2 linked regions of the Homo sapiens genome follow. The protein of the gene in region 2 interacts with the protein of the main gene of each other region in a pairwise test. Each region holds a gene or a part of one and is shown on either strand. Other genes may lie near its edges.

Evidence for each region. The genes of interacting proteins can lie anywhere in the genome.
Region 1: the proteins of KRTAP4-5 (region 2) and ZNF835 interact in binary tests that used the Homo sapiens proteins (3 or more experiments, as listed by UniProt).

What each region holds. Positions count from the first base shown.
Region 1 is NC_000019.10:56,661,740-56,668,770, forward strand, and holds the end of ZNF835 (zinc finger protein 835), read right to left. Parts: intron 3,507-7,031; 5' UTR 3,460-3,506; coding exon 1,846-3,459; 3' UTR 241-1,845; downstream 1-240. UniProt on the Homo sapiens protein: May be involved in transcriptional regulation.
Region 2 is NC_000017.11:41,148,424-41,154,573, forward strand, and holds KRTAP4-5 (keratin-associated protein 4-5), read right to left. Parts: upstream 1,403-6,150; 5' UTR 1,345-1,402; coding exon 799-1,344; 3' UTR 501-798; downstream 1-500. UniProt on the Homo sapiens protein: In the hair cortex, hair keratin intermediate filaments are embedded in an interfilamentous matrix, consisting of hair keratin-associated proteins (KRTAP), which are essential for the formation of a rigid and resistant hair shaft through their extensive disulfide bond cross-linking with abundant cysteine residues of hair keratins.

The DNA.
Region 1 (7,031 bases), on a different chromosome or scaffold from region 2:
ATTCTGCATATCATATGCTACCATTTGTGAAGAAAGGTGTACTATATATCTTTCCAGAATATTCTATGCATATAAATATTCATATATATGCTTACATATAGTAAGCATTTGCTTCTAGTGAGGGGGACTTGGTAGCTGGGAGACACAGGAGTAAGAACAGTTTTTTTTTTTAACTTTATAAATTGTGGACTACATGAGTGTATTCCCCCATAAAATAATTTTCCAATGATTATAGTCATGTGAAGTTATGAGATTATAACTTTAATTCAACATTGTAGTAGGTGGATTACGTTCATAACTCCTACTTTTCACCCTTCCCTGGGACCACATGCTTAGGAAGGCTCTTCCTGTGCTGATCCTAGGCTTGGCTAGGAGGCTTGCTTTGGCCTGTGGGACTAGATGCAAATGTGACAATATCAGAGACTTGAAAGCATGCCTGTGTGTCCACTCCCTCTCAGACTCCTGCCACCTCCCTGAGAACACACCCAGGTGAGATGTGAGTCAGGAGAAGAAGATCAAATTGGCCCAGCTGAGCCCTCCTGGTCCAGGTCCAGACCAAGCCTGGTCCAGACCAACAGAACCAGCAGCTGACCTCCAGATGCATGAGAAATAGTAAATGGATAAATGAGGGCTGGATGGTTTGTTACACAGCAAGAGCTGACTGATACAAGCATTAAAGTCAGGTCTTTGAGTTAGGGGGAAAAATGGTGGAGATGGGTAGGTGTTTCCTCATACTGAAAAAAAGACTAGGCCCACTCTAAAAATCTTTTGTAGAGGAGAAGCACTCCCTTCTTCTAGAATAACTTTCAGCTCTAGATTTCTCCTGCTCATTTTCTCTAAGCACTATTTCTATCTTAGTGAATCCAGATTTCTTCTTCAGACTCTGCTCCTTTAGTAAATATGCCAACTTGGCCAAAGAAACCAAACCTTTTATTCACTTTAATTCAATTAAATTTACTGAGCAAGGGCTTACTCAATAAAATCAACAATGAAAAGGCCAGCTGGCCAGGCACCGTAGCTCAGGCCTGTAGTCCCAGCACTTTGGGATGCCAAGGCAGGCAGATCGCCTGATGTTAGGAGTTCGAGACAGCCTGGCCAACATGGTGAAACCCTGCCTCTACTAAAAATACAAAAATTAGGCTGGGCGCGGTGGCTCATGCCTGTAATCCCAGCACTTTGGGAGGCCGAGGCGGGTGGATAACGAAGTCAGGAGATCGAGACCATCCTAGCCAACATGGTGAAACCCCGCCTCTACTAAAATACAAAAAAACTAGTCCGGGTGTGGTGGCCGGGCGCCTGTAGTCCCAGCTACTCGGGAGGCTGAGGTAGGGGAATCACTTGAACCCGGGAGGCGGAGGTTGCAGTGAGCCGAGATTGCATCACTGCACTCCAGCCTGGGCGACAGAGCAAGACTCCGTCTCAGAAAAAAAAAAAAAAAAAAATTAGCCAGACTCCTGTAATTTTAACTACTCGGGAGGTTGAGGCAGGAGAATCACTTGTACCCGGGAGGCAGAAGTTTCAGTGAGCCGAGATCGCTCCACTGCACTCTAGCCTGGGTGACAGAGAGAGACACTGTCTCAAAGAAAAAAAGAAAGAAATTAAAGGCCAGCCATAGGTGTTTCTGCAGGTCTACTTGCCCGTGCCCCATTTATAATTTTGCACCAGGAAGACCGCAGGGGAGTCTGGCAGATGTGAGGTACAGTCTTAGCCCTGTGTCTTCCCCACTGTGTGCCCTCAGGCAAGTTAACAAGCTTCTCTGAGCCTCGGTTTCCTCACAGGAAGCGTCGGGGATAACACAGTATCTCCCCCATAGCATTGTGAGGTTGGAAAGGAGGCCCTCAGCTCTTAATCTTCTGCTGGTCCACGCGGGTTTCTGCCAGGGCACCCCTGTTGACAGGTTTCTCCTCCCTGTGAGAGCCCAGGTGTTGAGTCAGGCGTGGGAGCTGGGCAAAGGCGTCCCGAACTGTCTGCATGCGTCCTCTGGTGTCGGATGAGCGCGGAGGAGAAGCTGAAGGCCTTCCCGCAGCCGCTGCACTCGTAGGGCTTCTCCCCGGTGTGCACGATGTGGTGCTGGATCAGGTAGGAGCGGTTGCTGAAGGCCTTGCCGCACTCGGGGCAGGTGTAGGGCCGCTCGCCCGTGTGCGTGCGCTGGTGCAGGGCGAGCGAGGAGCCCTGGCTGAAAGCTTTGCCGCACTCGCCGCACTTGTAGGGCCGCTCTCCGGTGTGGATCTTCTGGTGCTCTATAAGCGAGGACACGTGGCTGAAGGCGGCCCCGCATTGCAGGCACCTGTAGGGCCGCTCACCGGTGTGCACGAGGCGGTGCTGGAGGAGGTGGGAGCGGTTGCTGAAGCGCTTGCCGCAGTCGTGGCAGGGGTAAGGCCGCTCTCCGGTGTGCGTGCGCTGGTGCTGCGTCAGGTGCGACACCTGGGTGAAGGCCTTGGCGCACTGGCCGCACGCGTAGGGCTTCTCGCCTGTGTGGATGCGCCGGTGCTCGGCCAGAGAGGCGCTCTGGCTGAAGAGCGCGCCGCAGTCCTGGCACGTGTAGGGCTTCTCGCCCGTGTGCACGCGCCGGTGCTGGGTCAGGTGCGCGATCTGCGCGAAGGCCTTGGCGCACTGGCCGCAGCGGTAGGGCTTCTCCTCCGTGTGGATGCGCTGGTGGCGGATGAGCGCTGAGGAGAAGCGGAAGGCCTTGGCGCACGCGGAGCACTCGTAGGGCTTCTCACCGGTGTGGATGCGCTGGTGCTCTATCAGGGACGAGCGGTTGCGGAACGCCTTGGCGCACTGGGCGCACGCGTAGGGCCGCTCGCCCGTGTGCACGCGCCGGTGCTGGGTCAGGTGCGTGACGCGCGTGAAGGCCTTGCCGCAGTCGGCGCAGCGGTGCGGCTTCTCGCCCGTGTGCGTGCGCCAGTGGGACGCCAGGTACGAGCCCTGGCTGAAGGCCTTGCCGCACTCGTGGCAGGCGTAGGGCTTCTCGCCCGTGTGCGTGCGCTGGTGCAGGGTCAGGTGCACGCTCTGGCTGAAGGCCTTGCCGCACTCGGGGCACGCAAATGGCTTCTCCCCGGTGTGGATTCTCTGGTGTAAGATGAACGCTGAACAGTAGCTGAAGGCCTTCCCGCAGTCCCCGCATTTCCACGGCTTCTTGGGGCCTCCACCTCTCTCCCGCTGGCGGCTGTCAGGATGCCTCTCCTTCGGGCTCTCCCCAGGCGCGCTGCACCTCCGGGAACTGCTGTCGTCGGGGACACTGGCTTGGGTAGCAGCAGGGCTCGATATGGTTCTTGGGATTCGGCTGAATTCATCGCGTTCCTGCATGCTGTCCCCAGCAGGGTCTCCCTTGCAGGCCACGGCCTCTGGCTCTGGACAGCTTTCCTGGTTTTCCTGCAGGTCCTCAACCTGGCCCTCGTGTTTCCAGTTTCCTTCCAACTCTGCGCCCTGGAGGGCGACGCTCAAGAGTCCCTCCATCCTCGATCCCTGGGCTGCTGTCTTGATCTCACATCTTTTCTCTGGGTCTGAAAAGAAAAAGATAGAAAAAAAAATTAAATGTTGCCACTTGTCCTGAGCTGGAAAAATGGCTAACAGCTGAACTGGTAAGAACTTAGCATGGGGTCCCTGGACCTCTGTGCCAATGACATTTTGGGTCCAATAATTTGGTGTGGTGGGACCCATCCTGTGTGTTGTGAGATGTTGAGCAGCGTCCCTGGTCTCTCCACACTGGCTGCCAGGGACACTACCCCTCAACCCCTGAGTTGTAACAATGAAAAATGTCTCCAGGCCGGACGTGGTGGCTCATGCCTGCAATCCCAGCACTTTGGGAGGCCAAGGCAGGTGGTTGCTTGAGCCCAGGAGTTTGAGACCAGCAAACTGTCTGCTGCCTGGGCAACACAGCAAGATCTCATTTCTACAAATGAAAAAAAAAATTAGCCAGGCATGATGTTGTGCACCCGTGGTCCCAGCTACTCAGGAGGCTGAGGCAAGAGGATCAGCTGAGCTCAGAAGGTTGAAGCTGCAGTGAGTAGTGATCACACTACTGCACTCTAGCCTGGGTGACAGTGTGAGACCCTGTCTGAATTTTCTTTAAAAAGTCTCCAGACACTGCCAGGTGTCCCCTCCCCTGGGGACAAAATTGCCCCCAGTTGGGAATCACTGACTTAATGGAACTAAAAACAAATTTAAAAGATCCCTGAAAAAGAAAAAAAAAGCATGAATCTGTCAGCTCTTAAAATATGGCCCTGTAATCTGGTGCTGTGAACTGAATTGTGCCCCCTCAAAATTTATACATGGAAGCCCTAACTCCCAAGGTGATGCTTTGTGGAGATGGAGCCTTTGGGAGGTGATTAGCTTTAGAGGGGGTCATGAGGGTGGGGCCCCCACAATGGGACTGTTTTATTTTTTTTTTGACATGGAGTCTTGCTCTGTTGCCCAGGCTGGAGCACAGTCTTGGCTCACTGCAACCTCCGCCTCCCGGGTTCAAGCAATTCTTCTGCCTCAGCCTCCTGAGTAGTTGGGACTACAGGTGCACGCCACCATGCCCGGCTAATTTTTGTATTTTTAGTAGAGAGGGGGTTTCACCATATTGGCCAGGCTGGTCTCAAACTCCTGACCTCAGGTGACCCACCCACCTTGGCCTCCCAAAGTGCTGGGATTACAGGCGTGAGCCACCGCGCTTGGCTGGGACTAATGTTTTGATAAGAAGAGGAAGCGACACCAGAGCTCGCTGTCTGTCAGGTGAACACATGGCAAGAAGGCAGCCGTCTGCAAGCCAGGAAGTGAGTCCTCAGTGTGGTCTGACCATGCTGGCACTCTGATCTCAGACTCCCAGCCTCTAGCACTGTGAAGAAATAAGTGTTTATTGCTTCAGCCACCTAATCTGTGATTTTTTTTGTAAGCTGGAGCTAAGATAACTGGAAAGACAGTTTTCTTTTCTGGGGAAAAATCAGTTGAAACTTTAATTCCCAGTGTGACAGCGTTTGATGTGGGGCCTTTGGAGGATGATTAGGTCATGAGGGCATCCTCCTTAATAGGATTAGCGTCCTTATAAGAGGAGACACCAGGGGGCTCACTTACTCTCTGCTCTCTCTGTCCTCTCTGCGTGTGAGGACACAGGGAGAAGGCGGCCATCTGTAAACCAGGAAGAGAGCCCTCACCAGACAGAATCAGCCAACAGTGATCCCAGATTTCACATTATGGGGACACTATTCAACTCACTATGCTCCCCTTCTACAGGGCTCCATCAGTGAAGGAGCTGCCCAGGGTCTCCCAGGCTCAGAGGTTCATGCTGGCTCGTGGGCCCAGGGTCGTTAGAGATGGTGATCTCAAGCTATTGCAGGTTACCCTGTCTGCTTTGCACATTTTCAGTGGAAAGCAGGGATCTGTTTTTATATGAGCCCAGGAAGTCACTGTTTTTTAGAAAGCCATAACAGAAGCCATACATATAGTTACTTCTAGTGGGGCTGTGATGCTGAAGGATTTATACCAATTGCCTGGTGTACACTGGACCTGCACGCTGGCGAGAAACTCACCACTGACTTCTGATGCTTTAGTTCTAACAGAATGGGAAGACAGATGGACAAATGACCTCCTGGTGCTGAGAGAGGGAAGGAGGCAGCTGCCTGTGGATCCACTGTGCTGGGGCTAGCCCCAGAGGAGGGGGCTCACACTGCTGGGAGGTCCTTTCCAGGCTGTGTGGCTGCAGGTAAGTGGCTACCTGCTCTGAGGCTCTGCCTGGTTTTCTCTCTCTAAACAGGGCTCCAGCCTCCCCTTCTCCCGAGGGACATGGCAGGTCTCTCAGCAAGCTTGGCCTCATGTTATGTGTGGGCTCAGCCCCTCACACACAGGCATTCCCTGAACCAACTAGTAGGCTGTGTGCATACAGCAGAGAGTGCTCGGCCTTTGGCTCCTCCGGGTACACTCCTGCTGCTGCTGGACAGGCTACGTCTGAAGCTTGTCCTCCCCACTTCCTGTGTGAGATCCTAACCCTTTGTGGTGGTGCTAGGAGGTGGGGCCTCTGGGAGGTGATGATGACATGAGGCTGGAGCCCTCAGGCGTTGGATTCCTGCCCTTATAAAAGAGGACCCAGAAGGCTCCCTTGCCCCTTCCTCCAAATGAAGACACAACAAGAGGGCCCGGTCTATGAACTAGGAAGCAGCCCTCACCAGACACCAAACCTGCCGGCACCTTGACCTTGGACTTCCAGCCCCTAGAACTGTGTGGAAATAAATGCTGTTTCTTTCTTTCTTTCTTTTTTTGTTTTTTTGTTTGTTTGTTTTGTTTTGTTTTTGAGATAAGAGTTTCGCTCTTGGTGCCCAGGCTGGAGTGCAGTGGCACAATGTTGGCTCACTGCAACCTTCACCTTCCGGGTTCAAGCGATTCTCCTGCCTCAGCCTCCTGCATAGCTGGGATTACAGGCATGCGCTACCATGTTCAGCTAATTTTTTGTATTTAGTAGAGATGAGGTTTCACCATATTAGTCAGGCTGGTCTCAAACTCCTGTCCTCAGATGATCCACCCACCTTGGCCTCCCAAAGTGCTGGGATTACAGGCATGTGCCACTGTGCCCGGCCAATAAATGCTGTTTCTAAGCCACCAGAGTATGGCATTCCGTCACACCCCAAAGGACCTAAAATAGGGCTTTTTTTTTTTTTTTTTTTGAGACAGGGTCTTGCTCTGTTGCTCAGGCTGGAGTGCAGTGTTGCAATCATAGCTCGCTGCAGCCTGGGAATCCTGGCTCAAGTGATCCTCTCACCTCAGCCTCCCAAAGGGCTTGGATCACAGGCAGGCACCACCAACCACACCTGGTCAAGACAGGGCTTTTGTGTGGGCTATTCTTTCTGCCTGACATGCTCTTCCCGCAGCGTGTGCCTCAGCAAGAGGACAAGAGGAGACCCTGAGGGAGTGATGATGTTTGTGTTCAGGGTGGAGAACACAGCAAGTGCAAAGGTCCCAGGGCAGGATGGTGACAAGGGTGGCAGAGGAAAGGTAAAGGGGGTGGGGCTGGACAGAGCAACTGAGGTGCAAGGCAGGGGAGATGCGGTAGA
Region 2 (6,150 bases):
CAACACGCCCAACTAATTTTTGTACTTTCAGTAGAGAAGGGATTTCACTATGTTGCCCACACTGGTCTCGAATTCCTGGCCTCAAGTGTTCCACCCACTCAGCCTCCCAAAGTGCTGGGATTGCAAATGTGAGCCACCACGCTCGGCCAGAAACTGTATCCATTAAGAGCCTATACTGCATTATGTACCAGGCCCTGTGGTGAGTATATTACATGGGTTATGTCTCTTAACATTTAAAGAATGTAATGCATTATCTCTATTCACAGAGAAAGAAAACTGAGGCCTGAGGAGGTTAAAAAACTTGCCCCATGCCACGCAACAAATACCTAGGGGAGTCGTGATTCCAATGCAGGGAACATGAATCAAGAGCCCAGGCTCTTAAACATGCTCTCCTGCATTTGAAGAGAGATGGCCCTTGATGTGAACTGACAGGTAAAGACACACACACACACACACACACACGCACAATGAGATCACTAACAAATCAGAAGATTTCAATATTAGGGAAGTGGCTGTTTATTAATACATGAAAACAATATTATATGAGATCATCACAGTTAGTGTCCCCTTCGAATGAAGACACTGCTCATCTAAAAATAACTGCATTGGGGCCTGGCATAACATATTTTAATGAATGTGATTGTCTGTCATTTCCTAGAAGAGCTGAATGTCCACTCTGAATGCCACATGAGACAAACTGGCAGGGAAGTGTTCATTTTTCCAGTGACTGGCTGGCTACAGTGCATTTTAAATGACTAATGAAGACATTCATAGTATGACAAATATCACAAGGAGACATTAGCAGCAAGAGGAGGCACAGCACAAGGGGCGGGGGCAGGTGGAGATGACACAGGTTGGGCGATAGCAAGTGGTGTGGCAGGAGACTCGGCCACAGACTGGACGCACGCAGCAGCAGGGGCGGCAGCAGCTGGATTCACAGCAAGAGGGGTGGCAGCAGCTGGAGATGCAGCAGCTGGGACGGCAGCAAGTGGGCTGGCAGCACACAGACTGGCAGCACTGGGGTCTGCAGCAGCTGGACACACAGCAGCTGGGGCAGCAGCAGGTGGTCCTGCAGCAGGTGGTCCTGCAGCAGGTGGTCTGGCAGCAGCAGGGGCGGCAGCAGCTGGATTCACAGCAATAGGGGCGGCAGCAGCTGGAGATGCAGCAGCTAGGGTGGCAGCAGGTGGGCTGGTAGCACACAGACTGGCAGCACTGGGGCTTGCAGCAGCTGGGGCGGCAGCAGGTGGTCCTGCAGCAGGTGGTCTGGCAGCAGCTGGGGCGGCAGCAGTTCTCCAGGCCACAGCTCTGCTCAGAGCTGACAGAGCCACAACAGGAGCTGACCATGGTGTCAGAGGGTGGAGGTTCTGGGTGGATTTCTAGAAGAATGAGGTTCTCAAGTTTGGAAGTGTCCTTGGGCCACAGCCTCTTATATACTGCCCAGCTGTCTTGTTGGTACTACATTTTCCTTGTTTTTGTTTACTTAATAACTAAGTGATTATCAGATTACACAATAATGTTTGCCCATTTAATGGTTTAAACTTGTTGAAAACAAAATTTTCTTGTCCGGATGTAATAAGATCTATCATGTCTGCCTTCTCTCATGATTCACACCTCGGTAGCATCTTCTAGACCACGTTCTCTTCCTCTTCCTCCACAGAGGGCTGTTCATGTGATTCCCTGCATTTGGAATTGCATTTCTTACTCTCGCTTCAGGTACCCTCTACCAAAATGGGATTTGGTCAGTCACACTTCCAGTTATGCATTCCCTCTAGTGACCAATAGCGAGGAAAACCCATCTGCTCAGTGTGGCATTCCTAGTCTGTGGGTCATTATTAAGCAATAAGCAAAGGGATAGCAATACCTGCATGTGGCCTTGGTGACCTCTACACTATTGAAATGGGTTTCCCTGAATGTTTCAAATTTTGGGTCATATTCCATATCCTTAAATTTTTATACTTGGTGTTACTAATGGGTCAGTTTCTTAAATTGATACTTTGCTCTCCTATATTTTGTGTCATGTCTCTCCAGTTAATCTATTAGATTCCGGAAGACATAGTCCCATTTTTATTCCATAACTCATTGTTTTTTTTAAATGCCTCTAACTGTCTGTTAACATAATGCAGGTGTGTGTTTTCACTTTTTAAAAAAGAAATTTGAGATAATTGTAGATTTACATACAGCTGTAACAAACAGTCCCAGGAGAGGCTGTCTGTACTTCACCCAGGCTCCCTAACACTGTGTAACACCTGTATAATACTTTTAAGAATCTATCTACCCCCACTACTGTGTCTTGCATGATGTGCTTAATATAGAAAGAACTCAAGCTCAGTGAAATTAAAAACAATTAGTTATTTTTCAGATTGACGTATAATATTGTATTTACCACATACAACATAATATTTTGAAGTATATATACATTGTGGAAGGATTAAATCTAGCTAATAAATGCATTACCTCTCATACCTATCATTTTTTTGTGGTGAGAACGCTTAATATCCATTCTTAGAATTTTTCAAGAATACAGTATGTACAATATATCATCATTAACTATAGTCACTATGCTATACAGTAGACCTCTTGAACTGATTCTTCCTGTCTAGCTACAATTATATGTCTTTTGACCAGTATCTCCTCAAGCCCCTGACTCCCTAGCCACCCCTAGCCTCTGATTATCTTCATTCTCTGCTCTACTTCTATGATATCAACTTTTTTGAGTGCGATCATGTGAGTGAGATCATGTGCTATCTGTCTTTCTATGACTGATTTACTTCACTTAGCATAATTTCCTTGAGATGTATCCATGTTGTCACAAATGACAGAACTTCCGTCTTTTTACGGCCAAATAGTATTGCACTGAGTATATACTGCATTTTCTTTATCCCCTTACTCATTGGTGGACACTTGCACTGTGTGCATATCTTGGCAATTGTGAATAGTGCTGCAATAAATCTGGACATGCAGTTATTTCTTCAACATACTAAGTTCATTTCCTGTAGATATATAAGGTACCCAGAAGTGGATTGCTGGATAATACGGTAATTCCAGTTTTAATTTTTTGAGGAACCCTTATATTGTTTTCCATAATGGCTGAACTAATTTATATTCCCACCAACAGTGTACGAGGGAGTTTTTTTCACATCCTTGCCAATACTTGTCATCTTTTGTCTTTTTGATGATAACCATTCTAACAGGAATAAGGTGATATCTCAATGTGGTTTCGATTTGTATTTCCCTAATGATTAGTAATGTTGAGTACTTTTTCACAAACCTGTTAGCCATTTGTATGTCTTCTTTTGAGAAATGTCTAGTCAGGTCTTTTGCCCATTTTTAATCAGGTTTTTGTTTTCTTGCTTGTGAGCTGTTTGAGCTCCTTTTGTATTTTGGATGTTAACCCCTTATGAGATATATACTTTATAAATATTTTCTCCCATTCTGTAGGTTATCTCTTGACTCTTTTTGTGGTTTCCTTTGCTGTGTGGAAGCTTTTTAGTTTGATGTAATCTCAGTCATCCAATTTTTCTTTCGTCGCCTGTGCTTTTGAGGTCATATTCAAAAAGTCATTGCCGAGACCAATGTCATGAATCTTTCCCCCATGCTTTCTTCCAAAAATTTCATAGCCTCTGATCTTACATTCAAGCCATTAACCCATTTGAACTGATTTTTGCATACTGTAAGAAATAAGGGACTAATTTCATTCTTCTGCATGTGGATACCCAGTTTTCCTAACATAATTTATTGAAGAAACTGTCCTTCCCCCATTCTTGGCATCTTTGTTGAAAATCAATTGGTTATAAATGAGTGACTTTATTTCTGGTCTCTCTATTCCATTCCATTGGTCTGTGTGTCTGTTTTTATGTCAGAATGATGGTATTTTGGTTACTGCAGTGTTGTGGTTTATTTTGAAGTCAGGGAGTGTGGTGCTTCTAGCTATATTCTTAGTGTCCAAGATCACTTTGGTTTTTTGTGGTTCTATACAAATTTTAGAACTTTTTAAAAATATTTCTGTGAAGAATGTCATTGGTATATTTATAGGGATTGTGTGAGATCTGTAGATTGCTTTAATAATATTTGGACAATATTGGAATAAACACAGGATATCATTCCATTTATTTGTGTTTTCATCAATTTCTTTCATCTGTGTTTTACAGTTTTCAGTGTAGATATCCTCACTTCCTTGGTTAAACTTGTTCCTAAGTATTTTATTTTATTGTAACTATTGTAAATGAAATAGTTTTCTTGATTTCTTTTTCAGATGGTTTGCTATTAGTGTATAGAAAACCTACTGGGTTTTGCATGTTGATTTTATACTCTGCAACCTTACTGAATTTGTTTATTAGTTCTCACAGTTTCTCAGTGAAGTCTTTAGGGTTTTCTACATATAAGATCATGTCATCTGCAAATAGAAACAATGTAACTTCTTCCTTTCCAATTCAGATATTTTTAAAATATTTTATTCGTGTAAATGTATAATTTTGTTACATGGATATATTGCATAATGGTCGAGTCAGGACATTTAGAGTATCCATCACTGAAATAACGTGCATTCTACCCATCAAGTAATTTCTCATCATCCTTCCCCCTCCTACACCCCTGCCCTTCAGACTCTCCATTGTCTGTCATTCCACACTCTACCTCCATGTGTACGCATCATTTGGCCCCACTGTAACTGAGAACATGCAGTATTTGTCTTTCTATGTCTGAGTTGTTTCACTTAAGATAATGGCCTCCGGTTCCATCCATGTTTCTGCAAAAGACATGGTTTCATTATGTTTTATGGCTGAAGAGTATTCCATTGTTTATATATAGCACATTTTCTTTATCCAGTCATCCACTGATGGACATTTAGGTTGATTCCATATGTTTGCTACTATAAATAGTGGTGCAATAAACATATGTGTGCAGGTATATTTTTGGTATAATGATTTCTTTTCCTTCAGGTAGACACTCAGTCATGGGATTGCTGGATCAAATGGTAGTTCTAGTTTTAGTTCTTTGAGAAATCTCCATACTGTTTTCCATAGCGGTTGTACTAATTTACATTCTCAACAACTGTTTATGTGTTCCCTTTCAGCTCCATCTTCATCAACATTTGTTATTTCTGTCTTTTTGATAGCAGCCATTCTTACTGGTATAAGATGATCTCTCATGGTGGTTTTAATTTGCATTTGTTTAATGATTAGTGATGATAAGCATTATTTCAAATGCTTATTGGCCATTTGTATGTCATCTTTTGAAAAATGTCTGTTCATGTCCTTTTCCCCTTTTTAATGGAATTATTTGCAATGTTTTTGTTGGTAGAGTTCCTCTTAAATTCTGGATATTAATCCCCTGTTGGATGGATAGTTTGCAGATATTTTCTCCCATTCTGCAGGTTGCCTGTTCACTCCATTGATTATGTCTTTTGCTGTGCATGACAGACCAGGAGCACCATCATCTTGGACAAACACTGCCACTTGAAGTTGCAGCTCCCTTTCTAGCCTCATGCATTTCAAGGAAATCACTTCTCTTCTAACTACAAGCAGCCAGAAACAGCAGACAGTAAAACACAGATAAGATAGCTCTGGCACAGAGGGAAGCAGGGGGAAAGTCTCTTGGGTAACTGCCAAACTTCACCCTCGTACAATGGGCCCCAGTAAAAGAGTGGGCCTTAATAAGCACTTTCCTTTCCCTTCATGTGCACTAAGATAGGGAAGTTAAAAGCAGACTCGGGCTATGCCTGCAAGGGAATAGACACACAACTCTCCCTCCCAGATAAGCACAACAAAGAGACACAGAAGCAGTCCAAGCCTCTAAAAAACTCTCCCACCCTGAATCCTTAAAAACTCTTAGTCTGTAAAAAGTGTGCCTCCAACCTAACTCAGCCAAATGCCACTCTTAGGTTTGTTTTCTCTAAAATAAACCTGTCTTAACTGGCAAGCCATCTTTCATGTTTCTTTCCTTTTTGTTTAATTCTTACAGTGCAGAAACTTTTTAGTTTAGATAAATCTTATTTGCCTATTTTCTGTTTTGTTGCCTGTGCTTTAGAGGGCATAGTCATGAGTTTTTGGCTAGACCAATGTCCAGAAGAGTTTTCCCTAGGCTTTCTTCTGGTTTCTTTCTTTCTTTCGTTCGTTCGTTCTTTCTTTTTTTTAGACGGAGTCTCGCTCTGTC